4 separate regions of the Homo sapiens genome follow, and regions 2, 3 and 4 are each linked to region 1. The links come from fine-mapping of genetic effects on gene expression. A gene starts in region 1. Each other region holds a variant in brackets. All regions are shown on one strand. Distances are between the middles of the regions.

Region 1 (4,167 bases):
ATAACAGACTTGAGTTGCAACAGCTGGGGTGTATGCAAGTTCAGGGGATGATTTTACATGTGCCATTTAATCCAGGTACACTAGACTAGTACCTTTCTCAAAACTCAGAAAATAAATTGCTGTGAAGTATAAAAGGATTCAACCCTGATTACAAATGGGATAACAGGTAATTTTTGCTTAAAAAGAGCCTCTAGGAAACAGGAGGTTTGATCAATTTGTTTCATGTACTTCTACTTCTTCCCTTTAGGGTGCCTCAGAATGACCTAGTTCTCCCTTCTCTGTGTTAACACATGACACATCTTTCTCTGACAGTCAAAATTCGCAGATTATCCAAGTTTTAGAAGCCAAATTATACTTGTCCCTTTGTTGCCTGCGGACCTGGGGCACTGCCTATGAGTGTTTCAAGCGACAACCCAGATGTTTTTAACCTTTAAAAAAAAATTTTTTTTAAATACAAGGTATTTCTCTGTTGCCCAGGCTAGAGTGCAGTGCCATGATTATAGCCCACTGCAGTCTCCAATGCCTGATCTCAGATGATCTTCCTGCCTTCATTCCAAGTAGCTGGCACTACAGGCACACGCCACCAAGCCCTGCCAATTTTTTGTATTTTCAGGAGAGACGGAGTCTCACTATATTTCCCAGCCTGGTCTCGAACTCCTGAACTCAAGCGATCCGCCTGCCTCAGCCTCCTAAAGTGCTGGGATTACAGGCGTGAGCCACTGCGCCCGGCCTAAGATGCATCTTAAGGGGCACTGTTCTATTTCTACCATCTCGAATAGTATTTGGCCAACTCTTTCCAGCTATGTCCTGAATTTAAAGTGGAAAAAGGAGAAGAAGAAAATTATAACAGGTCTCTATTTAAAACCTGACGATTTAATCCTTCGCTGAACTGGGTTACAGAATTTTTCGAAAGTCAAATGGAGCTTCGGGACGGGCCTGCCTATGACCTGCACCTTGGGCCACCTTCCCCAGGGGCACCTGCCAAGGTGCAGGTTAGGGCGACTCAGTCCTTTGTCCCCACTGCAAGGGTTGGGAAGAGAAACGGGGGAAGCCGAGGCCGAAGAGCCGGCCTAACTTCATTTCCACAAATGATTCCCGGTGACCTCAAGTTAGAGTATGAGCCACTGGAGTGCAGGGTACGGGAAAAAGGAGAATTTGGGGCAAGGGGCACTTCAATTTGCCGCCTAAATTCGCATGACCAGGCCTAAATTCGGATGCGTTGCCATTTCCCACAGGGAAAGGCTCCGTGCGGCTACCAGTTCACATTCCTCCAGCTGAGTGCAAGCGGCTCCGCTCTCCCTCGGCGTCCGCGGACACCCGGGCACTGCTCCCCGGAGCCACGCAGCAGCCGGGGCATGGCCGGGGCCAGGCCGAGGGAGCGCCGTGCTGCGCCCGGGAACCCGCCAGGGCCTCCCAGGCCGGGTCCCGCCTCTGCTGCCCCCTGCTGGCTGCCCGCGAGCCGGGGCGCCCCGAACTCTCAGCGCCTTGACCACCGCGGCTCGGGACCGGGGCGCGGTTACCTCTTGGGGACATCAAAGGCTCGGCAGGCGGCGGGGCGCGACGGCTCCCCACACTTGGTTTTCCCATAGCGGATCAGGTCCTGGAAGATCGCGCAGCCCGGGAGCAGGCCGGGCGGCAGGAGCTGCAGCAGTAGGGTCAGCAGGAAGGCGGCGGTCAGCGTGAGCCACACCGCGCGCAGCGGGTTCAGCGCCGAGTGCTCGGCCTCCGCCCAGGGAGCCATGGCCCGCGTGCCCGCCTTCCGCGCTGCTGGCGCCCCCACCGCCCGCTAGCCCGCGGAAGAGCGGCCACTAGCGCGCGGCGCACCGGTCTCAGCCTAGCGGGACGTCGGTGACGCGGCGCGGGGCGGGGACGCGCAGAGCCCCTCCCGGACTCGCCGCTCAGCCGCGGAGGTCCTTGGTCCTGGTCGCGCTGGCGCTGGGTGGTCGCTCGCAGTCCCTAATCTGGGCATGGGGATTCTTAGATGGAGCTCCAGAATATGATTCATCAGAAGCAAAGACGCAAAACAGACGAGACCACGTGTCTGCCACTCTTATCAACATTATCTCCAAAGCAAAAAATGGAAACCTTACATGTTGCATTTTAGTTTATTTAGCTAAATTATGATACACTGACATGTTAGAATATCATGCAGTCATTGAGAATTATTATGACGAGTGTAGAAACAGGGAAAGCTGTTTAGGAAACAATATGTGAAGTGAAAAACAAAACCAACCATAAAAATACATAGCTATGATTGCAAACAACTATATTAATATGAATGTGTGTATATATGGATAAAGAAGGCAGATCACACCCAAAAATGAATAATTATGTTAGGATGCTGGAAATGTGTTGGATATGTGTATAATGTAAACATGTAGACAAGTAATTGCACATAATAATAAAAATCATAGTGGTAAAAACTGTGTTTAAAAAACAGCAGTCGCTTACCAATAGGGTTCCAATCCTTAGAAGCAAAGTTTTTAAATTCCATCAGCTGTTTCCTGTAACATTTATCTCAGGTAGTGACAATGCTATTTATTGACTCACTGATTTTAAACAACACTGATTTTATTTACTATAAGTGAAAATCTAGCTCTTTTAAGTATTTAAAAGTCTTTAAAATGTTAATTCTGAAGTATTGTATGCCTACTGTATGACAGGCATCATTTTGGATACTGAGGACAGAGGGGTTTACAAGATAATTGTCACTGCTTATTTGGAGCTTACATTTTTGAGATTGGGTGGTGGGTGAGAAGTGGAAGAGGGGAGAGGTAGCCAACTCATCACCCTTACCCCAATGAGATACCCGATATGTGTGTTGAATAAACATCAGGGTGGGTAGGTTAGTGGGACTTTGGACTGTTAAATGAGCAAGCTTTTAAAGTTTTCTTCTTTGTGCAAAAGACACCTAAGGCTTTACCCGTCCTTTGACAGCCAGGTGATTAAGGATGGTTAAATTGGCATTCTAGCTAGGACAATGAGGCCTTATTGAGTGATCCTGGATCTCTTTTGCGGGAGTCACCCTTTCACTGTTTCTTTCTTTTCTTTTTTTTTTTTTTGAGATGGAGTCTCGCTTTGTCGCCCAGGCTGGAGTGCAGTGGCCTGATCTCTGCTCACTGCAAGCTCTGCCTCCCAGGTTCACACCATTCTCCTACCTCAGCCTCCCGAATAGCTGGGACTACAGGTGCCCCCCCAACCACGCCTGGCTTTTTTTTTTTTTTTTTTTTTGTATTTTTAGTGGAGATGGGGTTTCACTGTGTTAGCCAGGATGGTCTTGATCTCCTGACCTCGTGATCCATCTGCCTCGGCCTCCCAAAGTGCTGGGATTACAAGCATGAGCCAATGCTCCTGGCACCCCTTCACTGTTTCTTTATTTTTCTTAGGTTAACTCTCTGTAAATGCAGCTGGTCTGTCCATGATCTTTTTCTTTTCAGAGAAGCTACTTGTAAGTGCATTGCAGGGACTCAGTTTCCTGGGTAGGAGTTTCTCTTACAGTTGTCTGACCTGGGGCAAGATTGAAAACAAGATAAGTGTGTGTGTATGTGTGAGTGTGTGTGTAGTGGAAACAGGAAGGGTTGAGGAGGCTGGAGGGGAAAATCATCCCATATATTTTTTAGATTTTTTTTTTTGAGACCGAGTTTCACTCTTGTTGCCCGGGCTGGAGTGCAATGGCACGATCTTGGCTCACCGTGACCTCTGCCTCCTGGGTTCAAGCTATTCTGCCTCAGCCTCCCGAGTAGCTGGGATTACAGGCATGTGACACCACACCAGGCTAATTTTGTATTATTAGTAGAGACGGGGTTTCTCCATGTTGGTCAGGCTGGTCTCAAACTCCCGACCTCAGGTGATCCGCTTGCCTCGGCCTCCCAAAGTGCTGAGATTACAGGCGTGAGCCACCCTGCCTGGCTATTTTTTAGATTTTAATCAGCATGCACAGTTTATATTCAGAGAAGCCCCCTGTAGATGGCAGTGGCTGAACAGAAAGCCGTAAGTTAAACCCTCCTGGGAGTATTTGTAAATGTAAATCCTTACTGGAGTGAGTTAGTTCAAAAGTGGAATACCAGGCTAACATCTGTTAGAAAGATCATTGCTAATAAATATCAGTGAGCATTTTTGTCTTTCTTCATTTAATTAACTGCACTATATGTTCAACAAACTACTGGT
Region 2 (4,167 bases), 110 kb before region 1:
AATTCACTTTCAAGTATTTTGAATTTAAGTTACTAATGGGACAATCAAGTTCGAATGTCCTGAAAGCAAATGATAGGTAACTTTGTCTCACGTAAAATGCTAGAGTTGGAGAGAGAGATTTAGGATCAGAAGAACCTTTGTGAAAACCCCTAGTATGAAAATGGATTAGCAGAAGAGATAGGAATAGTCAGTAAGGTGGGAAGGTAAGTTTATGCTGTGGGAATGACAAAGGATGACTTTTAAGAAGTGGAAATGAAAAATCATTGAAGTTAACGATACAAATGTTAGTAATCTTGAGAAGAATAATTGCTGTAGAGGTGTAAGTCACAGTGTGTGAAGTTAAGGGAAATGAATATATGGAAGATGGAGCCCATAATGAAAAGGAAGGAGATCTATAATACCAAATAATTAGTGAAACTCCTTTATTTCAGATGGAAGACGTGAGCAAATTTAAAAGTAGATAGTAAGGACCCTTGGCCAGGTGCAGTGGCTCTCGCCTATAATCCCTCCACTTTGAGGCAGGAGGATTGCTTGAGCCTAGAAGCTTGCAACCAGCCTGGGCAACATAGTGAGACCCCATTTCTATAAAAAATTAAAAATTAGCCAGGCATGGTGGCTCACACCTGTAGTCTTGCGTACTTGGGAGGCTGAGGCAGGGGGCTCACTTGAGCCCAGGAGTTCAATGCCACAGTGAGCAGTGATCATGCCACTGCACTCCAGCCTGGGTGACAAATCAAGACCCTGTCTCAAAAAAAAGAAGAAAGTAAGGACCCAAAGGTGTAGATGCTAAAGGAATAAGGAACAGTGATGTGGCCCGGGTCCTAGAGAAAATAGGAAAGACTATAAATGGTAGAGATGGAAGGATTAGCTTTAGAATGTGAAGCAAAACTTTCCTTTGAAAGTGAGTAAAGAATGAAAAGGATGAGTAGCTAAAAATAGGGAAACATTAAGTTGTTTGCACCAGAAAATCTATTTTTTCTATTAAAGACAAAGTGAGATCCTCTCCTGAAGGTGCTCTACTTTTATGAACTAAATGTCATTGACGACTTCTGTTGGGGAAAATAATGGTTGTAAACTTACACAACTTTTATGATCTTACTTTATGTGGTATATCAATCATTGTTTTATATCAGAAATATGTGATTTTTAAAATCTCTTTTATTTCAGCAAAAAATCAGTTAGAATTCTGTTGTCACATGCTGCGAGGAACAATAGACCCAAAGGAGCCATCTACCTATGAATATGTAAAATTTATAGGAAATTTCAAATCTTTAAACAGTGGTGAGTTAAAATGCTTCTCTCACAATGTGTTTTAACTTGTTATTTTTCTGTGCTCTTAAAGACATAGATGTTTGAATATCAGTGACAATTAGGTTTTGCTGGCATAACTGATGATACATATTTCCCTATTGTTTTAGTATCCTCTTCAGCACACAATGGTTTTGAAGGAACTATACAACGCACACATAGGCCATCTTATGAAGATAGAGTTTGTTTTGTAGCTACTGTCAGGTTAGCTACACCTCAGTTCATCAAGGTATGTTTTTAATTTTATTTCCCAAAGGGGATTTCAGTTCATATGCTGAGAGCTGCCTGAAACTTCCTGCAGACATTGAGGTGGAATGGCTATGAGTCATTAAATATGCATGATAATATTTTTGAAACGATGAGTTATCAAGACACTCATTAAATTGTATAACTAATTTTTTAGTATATATCCTTTGCAGTTAACCAGTGATTATTATATATCAATATTGCCCTACTTTTGTGGAAGATTTTAGGATCCTTTTGTGTGTTGTTCATTATCTCTATTAAAAGGGAAAGTCCAAAAATCTAGGTTTTTGGAATCTTTATTTTTAGAAGGTAACTTTTAAATTTTTATTTGAAATGTACAAGTGGCTCTTTGCCACATATAACTTACCTTTTCAAATGTAAAATTAGGTATTTTATTTTTATTTCCTGGACCCAACAAACAGATGACAAGTAGGGAAGTGGGAAAGTGAAAGAGTTAACCACTAGAAACTGACTGGAAAGAGGCAGCCAGGCTAAGATTTAAAATTTCGGCGGGGCCAGGCGAGGTGACTCATGCCTGTAATCCCAGCACTTTGGGAGAGCAAGGCGAGAGGATTGCCTGAGCCCAGTAGTTTGAGACCAGCCTGGGCAACGTGACAAGACCCCATCTCTACAAAAAATACAAAAAATTAGCCAGGCATGGTGTTACACACCTGTGGTCTCAGTTACTCAGGAGGCTGAGGCAGGAGGATCATTTGAGCCCAGGAGGTCGAGGCTGCAGTGAACTGTGTTTGCATTTTATTTTGAGACAGAGTCTGACTCTGTCTCAAATAAATTTGGGGGGACATCATAGTATAGGACAAAGTACTGAATTAATAGAAGATCTTAAGCCAGTCTTGCTTGGTTTGTTTTGATCTTATGAAATAATAGTTGTTAACATTTGAGTGCTTACTACATGCTGTGTATTTTATATGCATTATCTCATTAATTCTTA[T/C]GACAACCCTATAAGTTAGATGCCATTACGATCCCTCATTTTACATTATAAGGAAACAGGCTTAGGGAAGTTAAGTGACTTGCCCAAAGTCTCAGCTATTAGTGATGAAACTGGGACTTGATTCTATTAATTAATAATTGTTTTTTTCTCAAAGCCCAAGCTCTCAACTATTACAGAGTGCTGCAGGTCATTCAGGGACACAGAGGCAGGATGGAATACATTGTTTAGTATGACTAGAGTCTAGGGTTAGTGTGTGGAGGGGGAAGAGATAGTGGGAGGTAAGGCTAGAAAAGTAATCAGAAACCAGAAATAAAATTTGTTTCTTTCTTGTTTATTTCTCCATGCTGAAGAGAGTTTAGCACAAGGAACCACTGAAGGTTTTTTAGCAGGGAAGTCATATAATATTTGAGTATTGGTAAGGTAATTGTGGCCCTAGAAGAGAAGATGAGTTGAAGGACAGGGAGACTGGTGAACACTGTAGCAAATCAGTGATGGCAGGGGTCTAAACCAATGCACTCAAGATGGATGAGATAGAATTGATTTTTAAAATACTTAGATGAAATGGAAAAGATTTAGTAATGGCCACTTAGATGATGAAAGGTAAAAATGAAAGAGTATGTTTTTTTAACTATCAGATTTCTAGACACTGGCCACTACACATGTATAGAATAATACGGAAAATTGTGTGATTGGGTGTGAGGAGTAAAGCAGTTAGTTTATTTTAGGACATATTGAATTTGAGATGTATGAGGACATTCAGATATTTGGAAATATGGAACTGTAATTCAGGAGAGAGGTCTGAATTTTGAATAAGCGTTTATAGGCATGTGTGAATGGAAAATGTGTAGAGTGAGAAGTACCCACCCAAAAGCTTGCATCTAAAGGTTATTTATTACCACATTCTTTAGTACTGGAAAATTAAAATATATTAACTTGTTTAGAAGGGCCTGCATTTTGGCTTATGCCTAGAATCCCAGCACTTTGGGAGGCTGTGGTGGGCAGGTTGCTTGAGCCCAGGAGTTGAAGACCAGCCTAGACAACATAGACCCCCCACCTCTACAAATAAAAATACAAAAATTAGCCGGGCGTGGTGGTGCATCCCTATAGTCCCAGCTACTTGGGAAGCTGAGGCAGGAGGATCGCTTGAGCCTAGGATGTTGAGGCTGCAGTGAACTGAGATCACACCACTGTACTTCAGGCTGAGTGACAGAGTGAGACCCTGTGTCAAACAAAGAAATAGGTAAATATATACATACATAGAAACAACTAACTTGTTTAGGAAAAGTTTATCTAGTAATGACTATTTATTTATGTATTTATTTAACCTCCACCTCCTGGGTTCAAGTGATCCTGCTGCCTCAGCCTGCCGAATAGCTGGGATTACAGGTGCCCGCCACCGTGCCCTGCTATTTTTTGTATTTTTAGTAGAAATCGGGTTTCACCATGTTGGCCAGGCTGGTCTCAAACTCCTGACCTAAGTGATTTGCCCACCTCAGCCTCCCAAAGTGCTGGGATTACAGGTGTGAGCCACTGCACCTGGCCATGACTTATTTTTATATGTAGCAATATTTAATATTCTTAAGGACACAAAGTATTTATAAATTTTAATTATTTATTTGTAGGAAATGTGCACTGTTGAAGAACCCAATGAAGAGTTTACA
Region 3 (4,167 bases), 140 kb before region 1:
TCCCCGCCACCACCCCCTGCCCTTTTTTTGGTAGTTTGTCTTATTTTCTACCTTTTGATAATTAAGCCATACTTACTGGGTGCCTTATAAGGCTCAGATCTGGCCTTTTGAACTTTTTACTCTTAACAATTCTTTTTGAATTCACTGAAATTTGCCCTATTACTTTTATACTGTTCTTCCTCTTCTAGTGATAGAATCAGCCTCACTTCTTACCATGAAGATAAATATGTCTGTTGGACCAGAGAAATGTACTTAGGTGGTCTTTAAATTCTCTTCTACCTCTAAAATTCTGTAGTTCTGTGTTCCATCTGCTGATACTACCTCAGACACTTAAAATCACAACTTTTCATCCTGGTGTTAGTCCTTTTTATTTTATTATTTCTATCTTTGACTCTGTCACTCATTTTCTTTTAAGAACTCTTAGCCCTGGGTATGGTAGCGAGCACCTGTAATCCCAGCTACTCAGGAGGCTGAAGTGGCAGGATTGCTTGAGGCCAGGATTTCAAGGCAGCAGTGAGCTATGATCATGCCACAGCACTCCACCCTGGGCAACAGAGTAAGACCCCATCTCAAAAACAAAAAGAAAAAAAAATATTCTGAGCCCCTCACAGTTCTACTTCTGCAGCCATAACCATACAGGCAATGCAGCAATGTTGCCAGGGTTATTCTCCTTTCCTTTCATGAAGGTGCATTTGAAAACAGTGACTGAATGTTTAGAATCTCACGTTCTTGTAATATCTTTAATCTTCTCTGGTTTAGAAATGCTCCGTTGAGCATTTCCTTTGAATGTTGAACATTATGTTGATGCTCAAAAGCTTTCAGATTTTGGAGTATTTTGGATTTCAGGTTTTCAGATTAGGGATACTCAACCTATAGAATATAGAGAGACAAATTTTAGGCTTGTGATCCAGCTTTAAAGCAGTAAGTTTTACTTCCTTCAATTTGGGTATGAGACTCTTTATAGTAAGACTCTCCTGTACTTGACTTGCCTTTGCCAGTTTACCACTTGTATTCTCAAACTTTATGGTCTAGTAATTATAACTTTAAATTGTAACATCCCAGGTTTTTCATAAGGAAAATGCTAAACCTCTTAGTTTCTCAAATACGATATTCTTTTGTCTCACTAAGGCCTGTGCCTTTACAAATTGCCATTCCTGTCGCTTAAAATTCTTTCACCTATTATCTGTTTCTGTCCTCCAGCCTGTTGCTTCTCAAACTTAAGTGGTCATACATTATCACGTGGAGCCCTTGTGAAAATGTAGATTCTGGTTCATTAAGATTTTGCCTTTGAAAACAAGCTCTCAGAGGATGGTGATGCTGCCCATCCCTGCACCATATTTGCATTAAAAAAGAATTTTGACTCCCTGACAGACTTACTGTCATCAAGAATATTTCCTCGTTTCCCCTCTCTAATTCCCACGGGTAGACATAATTGTTCCTTGCCCAGTGATAGCATTACACAGTATATACCTTCATTATACCTCTTATTATAATTATTTAGATATCTATCTTCCTGCTCAATTGCAAATTTTTCCTACAGGGACTGTGTCTTTCACTGTTATGTGCCCAAAGCCTGCTGTACTGTTTAGCAGAAAATAGGCTTTCAACAAATATTTATTGCTGAATAGATGGTGTTATTACAGACTATTTGTAGTTATATAGTCAAATATATACTGAATATTGAGAATGTCCATTTTATTTTGATTGATAGTAAAGAGAAAGTTAATATGAGCCTGAATTACTTTTTTTCTTGTAGGTGTTTTTTAGGAGGGGAAAAGAAGCCTCAAATGTACCTCAGCCATAGGTATTTGCTTGAAAATAATGTTCTGATCTTCAGTACAAACAAAACGTTTTGAAGTCTCTGTGATAACATATAGTATTTCTCAAGATAAGTTTGTGGAAGTAACATTTTTAGAAAACTAATGACCATTTATTTTTCTTTTCACCTAAGGAGAAGTACAAATGTCTACTACAAGACGAAAACGTAGTATGTTATGTTGTTTACCGTAAGCTGTAGTAAAATGAGCTCGATTGTTGACAGGTATGTTTTTGAAGACTTATTTTAAGTTATATATAATTATTTTAAAATGCACTATTAGAATAATGGTCTATATGAAATTGATAGAAGGAATTTTATGCCTAAACATAATTACTATTGCATTCAGTTTCTGTATTAAACAAATATAGTATAAAAAAATAAGTAAGGTATATCAGTATTTTCCAGAGGCAAAGTCAGCAGCATATGGCTTGTGTGTTTTAAATGAGTCCTGACTTGTAATTTTTAGTGATTTGGTCATAGCTGCTCTGAAGGAAATTCTGACAGTTGCAAATGTTTCCTTGGAACCTTCTGGAGTCCTTTTTCTTCTTATCTAACTTCATCCCTTCAAGCATCTTAGCATTTGTGACTGATAAGAAGTAA[C/G]TATAATTAGGATTTCATTAGTTAAAATTGTAATCTTTACATCATACTCTTGGGAAAAGGGTAAATCTCCATATTCCTTTGATTTTAATACTTGAAATTTTTGGAGGAGGGTGGAAGGGGGCAGTGAGGGTTAAAAAACTATTGGGTACTGTGCTCACTACTTGGGTGGTGAGATCATTGGTACACCAAACCTCAGCGACACGTAGTCTACCCGCATGAAAAACCTACACAGGTACCCCTGAACCTAAAGTAAAAGTAGAAAAGAAAAGACTTTAAGTTGTCTTTGTTTTTTACATTTTAGCATCTCTTATCATAATTTAATTGGTAGCACTCTTTTTTTCTTTCTTAAGGGCACATAAAATAGTGGTGATCTTAACAGTCAATAATATCTTAAATTTGATATAATCCAACAACATTTTTAAAGCATCTACTCTGACAGCAAATGTACAGAATACTTTTTTACATGTTATTTAACCTCAATAATTCTGCAAGATTTTACAAATGAGAAAACTGTAGGTCAGAGAGGTTAAATAACTTGTTTAAAGTCACATAGCTAGTAAGATATGATCTGGAATTTTTACTTGTGTTGGTTTGTCTGACATTAAAGTTGTTAATGCGTTTATTGCACTGTTCGGTGTGCTCCATCCATTGGGATTCTTTAAGAGTTTTGCAGCTAGACTTGTACACAGAAGTGACTTTTGACATCTGGGGACAGCTCTTCTCCCTTTTTATGAGCTAGATAGTAAAGATGTATACTCCACCAGAACTTAAGATGTGAGGAGCAAGAAACTTCCTTAAAGAAGCCTGCCTGCACCATGTCAATAGCTTTGAACTGTGCCATAGTTACAGGCGGAATTAATGATAGTCTTTTTCTTGGAAAAGATATTTCTTCACTGCCTTTGATGGATAAAATATGAATTTGGCATTATGCTTTTCCCATTCTAGATAGTATGACACCTAGGGATGACATTTGTATTTTCAGACATAAAGCAGTGATTATTAATATGGGTTCCTTATCTCTGAATGTCATGGAAGTTATGAACTCTGTTCTCGGAAAATTCATATACATATAACAATTTTTTATAAATTTCAGGGCCTACATGGAATCCCCAAGTTCATACATGCACCTCCACCATGATATGAGTGTTACAGGTGATCTCAATAGTGACTCCATTTTATAGCATATAGGCCTTTATAGGCCATAGAAAGGTGTGGCTAAAGGAGTGAATAGGGAATTTATGTAAAACTTCATAAATCAGCAGAAACTTTAATATTGCTCCTAGGGTTGAGTTAGCCACCAATGCTCTTGATTTTATTTTTTAGGAATGGTCTTTCCTTACATCTTCCCATAGCCAGCCCCTTCTTGTCACTTAGATCCTAGCTCACGTGTCCCCCACTAACCGCTCAGACTGCAGTTACTAAAACATCACCCCTTTAAAAAAAATTAAAACTCATCTCTTTTTTTTTTTTGAGACAGAGTCTCACTCTGTTGGCCAGGCTGGAGTGCAGTGGTACGATCTCGGCTCACTGCAAGCTCCACCTCCTGGGTTCACGCCATTCTCCTGCCTCAGCCTCCTGAGTAGCTGGGACTACAGTTGCCCATCACCACGCCCGGCTAAGTTTTTGTATCTTTAGTAGAGACTGGGTTTCACTGTGTTAGCCAGGATGGTCTCGATCTCCTGGACCTCGTGATCCGCCCGCCTCGGCCTCCCAAAATGCTGGGATTACAGGCGTGAGCCACTGCGCCT
Region 4 (4,167 bases), 190 kb before region 1:
TTTAATTTGTTTTCTTTTTCTGGTTTCTTAAGATAGAAGCTGAGGTCATTGATTTGTGACCTTTTTTCTTTTCTAATGTAAGCATGCTATAAACTTCCCTTTAATTGTTTATAATTTATTTATTTGTTTTTTGAGACAAGGTCTCACTACTGCTCAGGCAGTACAGTATCGTGATCATGGCCCATTGCAGCCTTGACCTCTCAGGCTCAAGTGATCCTCCCACCTCAGCCTCCTGAGTAGCTGGGACTGCAGGCATGTGCCACCATGCCTGGCTAATTTTTTATTTTTATTTTTATTTTTTTGAGACTGGGTCTCACTCCGTTGCCTAGGCTTTAGTGCAGTGGCCCAATCACGGGGTCACCACAGTGTCGACGTCTCAGGCTCAAGAGATCCTCGCACCAGAGTCTATTAAGTGCTGGGATTACAGGCGCGTGCCATCATGCCTGGCTAATTTTTGTATTTTTTGTAGAGATAGGGTTTCACTATGTTGCCCAGGCTGGTCGTCAACTCCTGAGCTCAGGCAATCCACTTGCCTCAGCCTCCCAAAGTGCTAGGATTACAGGTGTAAGCCACCACACCTGGCCAGAGTTTATTACAATTTTTTCTGAAGACAAGGATGTCACTGTGTTGCCCATGTTGGTCTTGAACTCAGTTCAAGCAATCCTCTTTCCTTGGCCTCCTGGAGTGCTGGGATACAGATGTGAGCCTCCACTCCTGGCCGTTTCCAGTTTTTGATATGTTTCCATTTTCATTCCATTCAGAGTACTTTATAATTTCTTTCCTGATGTCTTACTGGGTCTATAGTTTATTTATAAGTGTGTTATATAGTTTTCAAATATTTGAGGATTTTCCAGAGATCATTGTTATTTTTAATTTAATTCCATTGTAATGAGATAATTTTAAATTTATTCGGATTTATTTTATGGCCTAGAATATATTCTATCATTGTAAGTGTTCTTCATGTGCAGTTGAAAAGAATGTGTGTTTTGTTGTTAGGTGGAGTGTTTTACAAATGTCAGTTAGGTCAAGTCTGTTGATTGTTTTGTTTATGTCTCATAATTTTTTATTGAATGCCAGGCATTGTGTAGTAAAAAACTTAAGTAAGCATTACCAGGTAATGGTACATTTTGCCGGGTTGGGAGAGGGGTGGGGGAAGGGGAAGTTCATTTTCTATGCAGATAGGCTAGGGAGCTGTATTAGTCTGTTTGCATTACTATAAAAGAATACGTGAGACTGGGTAATTTATAAAGAAAAGAAGCTTAATTGGCTTACGGTTCTCCAAAGTGTATAGGAAGCATGGTGCCGGCATCTGCTTATAGTGAGGCTTAGTAAGTTTCTAGTCATGGCTGAAAGTGAAGGGAGAGCAGGTGCATGACAAGGCAAGAGTGGGAGCAAGAGAGCAAGGTGGGGCAGGTCCCAGACTTTTCAACAACCAGATCTTGTGTGAACTCACTTATTACCGAGGAGATGGTACTAAACCATTCATGAGGGATCTGCCCCCATGATCCAGTTGCCTCCTACTGGGCCCAACTTCCAACATTGGGAATTACATTTACATTTCATCATGAGATTTGGAGGGGACAAGCATCCAACCCATATCAGGAGCCCATCATCTTAAATTATGTGGAGGCTGGGTTGCTATTTTAATAGTTTGCTATCCTTATTTTTCCTTGTTTTTTCAGATGTTGTCTTCTAAGGCATTCATTTCAAAGCCTATTGGTCTTGTCCCTTTAGCAATGCCAAAGGTAGGAAATTTCACTTTGCTTTTCAAAGTTTTTTAGTTGACTTTGTAGCCTTTTACCCTGCACGGTTTTAAAATTCAGCAAGTATGCTGAGGGGAGATACCACCTTTAAGCTTGAGGTCCTTGCGTGAAACTTTTTAGGAGAATTAGTCTCCTAGTGTTGTTATTCCAGCCCTGTGTGAACACCAAAAGCTGTCCTGGCTTCTGTGTTCCTCAGCAACAATATTTTACACAGGTCAGGCCTCAATTTTCAGCCTCTAACCCAAGCAATAATTAGGAAATACTCCCAGGGAAAAGACAGATACTGGTCATCTAAATACCTTTAAAATATTCTCCCCATCTCTGAGGTGGAGGTTGCAGTGAGCCAAGATTGTGCCACTGCACTCCAGCCTGGGTGACAGAGCAACAAGACTCCATCTCAAAAAAAAAAAAAAAAAAAGATTCTCCCATCACTGGAATTTTAGACCTTCTTTCCCATGCTTCCACAGCTCCTCACTAACTTTAAAAATATGATTTTTATAATTTATTTAGCTTTTTAAGTTGTTCTTAGCAAGAATATTGGCCTGCTTCAAACTAGTTCATTTTACCTAAGTGCAGACAATTTCCTATTATTATTATTATTGTCATTTATTTTTGCAGAGATAGGATGTGACTTTGTTGCCCAGGCTTGTCTTGAACTCCTGGGCTCAAGTGATCCTCCTGCTTTGACCTTCCAAATTATTAGGATTACAGGCATGAGCCACTCTAGCTGGCGCCTGTCATTTTTTAAAGGTATGCAGAATACTCAATATTTATG[A/C]GCTGTTTTATGTAGTGTTCTTTAGGTATTTTGTTGTTGGGTTTCAGTTTTTGATGTATATTTTTTAAAATTGATTTTTATTGGGGTATAATGTATATATGTTAAAATCTGCCCAATTTAAGTATGCAGCTTGAGTTTTGACAAACCTAAACATTCTTGTAATCACCATAATCAAGAAGCAAAAAAATTTTTTTTTATACTGATAAAGAGGTCTTTCTGTATTGACCAGGTTGGAGTGTAGTGGCAATATAGCGAGGCCTTTGGCTCTCCAAAAAAATAGAAAAAAATTAGCCAGACATGGTGGCATGCACTTGTGATCCCACCTACTCAGGAGGCTGAGATGGGAGGATTGCTTGAGCCCAGGAGGTTGAGGTTGCAGTGAGCCATTGACTGTGCTGCTGGACTCAGCTTGGATGACAGAGCAAGACTGTCTCAAAAAAAAAAAAAAAAAAATTCTCACTTTATACAGAAAAGGCTGCTGAGATTTTGTTTAGGGTTGTATTTACTCTATAGATTAATTTAAAGAAAACTGATAGCAACATTGAGTCCTTTGATCCTTGAACACAGTATACCTCTCCATTCATTTAGGCCTTTCATTTTTCTCAGTAGTGCTTTGAAGTCTTTTAGTATACCTTTAATGGTGGTCTTCATCTTGTTCATTCAGCAAGTATTTATTGAGCATTCTGTTCTGTGCCAGCTACTATTCTGTCTGCTGGGGAACAAAGCCCTGCCTTCAGGGAGCTTATGTTCTAACTGAGGAAACCAGATGAGAAACTAGTGAGTTAAATATATGCTAGATGGATATTTGTATTGTAGAGAAAACCAAATCAAGGTGTAGGGGATTAGAGTCTATTAGCATGTGAGGATAGAATGGATATCTTAGTTTTGGCTGCTATAACAAAAATACCCAGGAGTATTAGATTCTGCAGTACAACAGCACATAGACTGTGTGCTGTTGAATTTGGTTTGCTAGTATTTTTTTAAGGGTAAAAAAATCAGTATTCATTAGGTTTATTGCTGTAGCTTTCTTTTTTTGTGGTATCTTTGTCTGATTTTGATATCAGGGTAATGCTGGCCTTTTAGAATGAGTTTGGAAATGTTCTCTCACATTTAGTTCTTTGGAAGAGTTTGAGGAGGATTGGCTTGGTGATAGTTGAGAGTAGAATAAGCACTCGTTTCAAGTTTGGTATTGTTGCACTGATGCTCCACTTGACTCGCTGCATATTACAACTGTAATTATTAATTACTTCAGTGCTGTTAATCATAGGGTAGTACAAGCTAGATTAAATGGCAAACAAATGTACAAAACATTTTATTACTATTGGGTTCTTTATACATTAATGTTTTAAGACACAGGCAAAAAGGAAAACATCGAGAGTTTACTGAAAAGCAAAAGTTTTGTAGTGTGTCTTGAATTTAGTAAACAAGTGTCCACTCTCCTGCATCTTAAACAAGCACTTTGTTTTTGTTTTATTTTTTTGAGATGGAGTCTCACTCTGTTGCCCAGGCTGGAGTGTAGTGGCATGATCTTGGATTACTGCAACCTCTGCCTCCCAGGTTCAAGCTGTTCTCCTGCCTCAGCCTCCCGAGTAGCTGGGATTACAGGCGTGTGCCACCATGCCTGGCTAA

What was found. PIP is the estimated chance that this variant, and not a neighbour inherited with it, causes the effect.
Region 2: its variant is the best candidate, but not a certain one, in a credible set for the expression of SRD5A3 in whole blood (INTERVAL, PIP 0.68).
Region 3: its variant is the best candidate, but not a certain one, in a credible set for the expression of SRD5A3 in whole blood (INTERVAL, PIP 0.60).
Region 4: its variant is the best candidate, but not a certain one, in a credible set for the expression of SRD5A3 in whole blood (TOPMed, PIP 0.56).

Annotation. Positions count from the first base shown.
Region 1 is chr4:55,343,911-55,348,077 of GRCh38, reverse strand. It overlaps SRD5A3 (steroid 5 alpha-reductase 3), which reads right to left and starts at 1,836. Exons shown (of 5, transcript NM_024592.5): 1 at 1,521-1,836. The coding sequence starts at 1,741. RefSeq lists silencers at 1,254-1,523, 1,734-1,903 and an enhancer at 1,355-2,115.
Region 2 is chr4:55,456,262-55,460,428 of GRCh38, reverse strand. CLOCK (clock circadian regulator) reads left to right here. Exons shown (of 23, transcript NM_004898.4): 10 at 1,168-1,281; 11 at 1,419-1,537; 12 at 4,129-4,167. Among named protein-coding and RNA genes, the nearest start is that of TMEM165, 62 kb to the right of the region's middle. The variant T/C (reference allele first, on the strand shown) is at 2,507.
Region 3 is chr4:55,480,613-55,484,779 of GRCh38, reverse strand. It overlaps CLOCK (clock circadian regulator), which reads left to right. Exons shown (of 23, transcript NM_004898.4): 4 at 1,952-2,041. The coding sequence starts at 1,995. Among named protein-coding and RNA genes, the nearest start is that of CLOCK, 64 kb to the left of the region's middle. The variant C/G (reference allele first, on the strand shown) is at 2,420.
Region 4 is chr4:55,533,754-55,537,920 of GRCh38, reverse strand. The region is part of intron 1 of CLOCK (clock circadian regulator); the gene reads left to right. Among named protein-coding and RNA genes, the nearest start is that of CLOCK, 11 kb to the left of the region's middle. The variant A/C (reference allele first, on the strand shown) is at 2,539.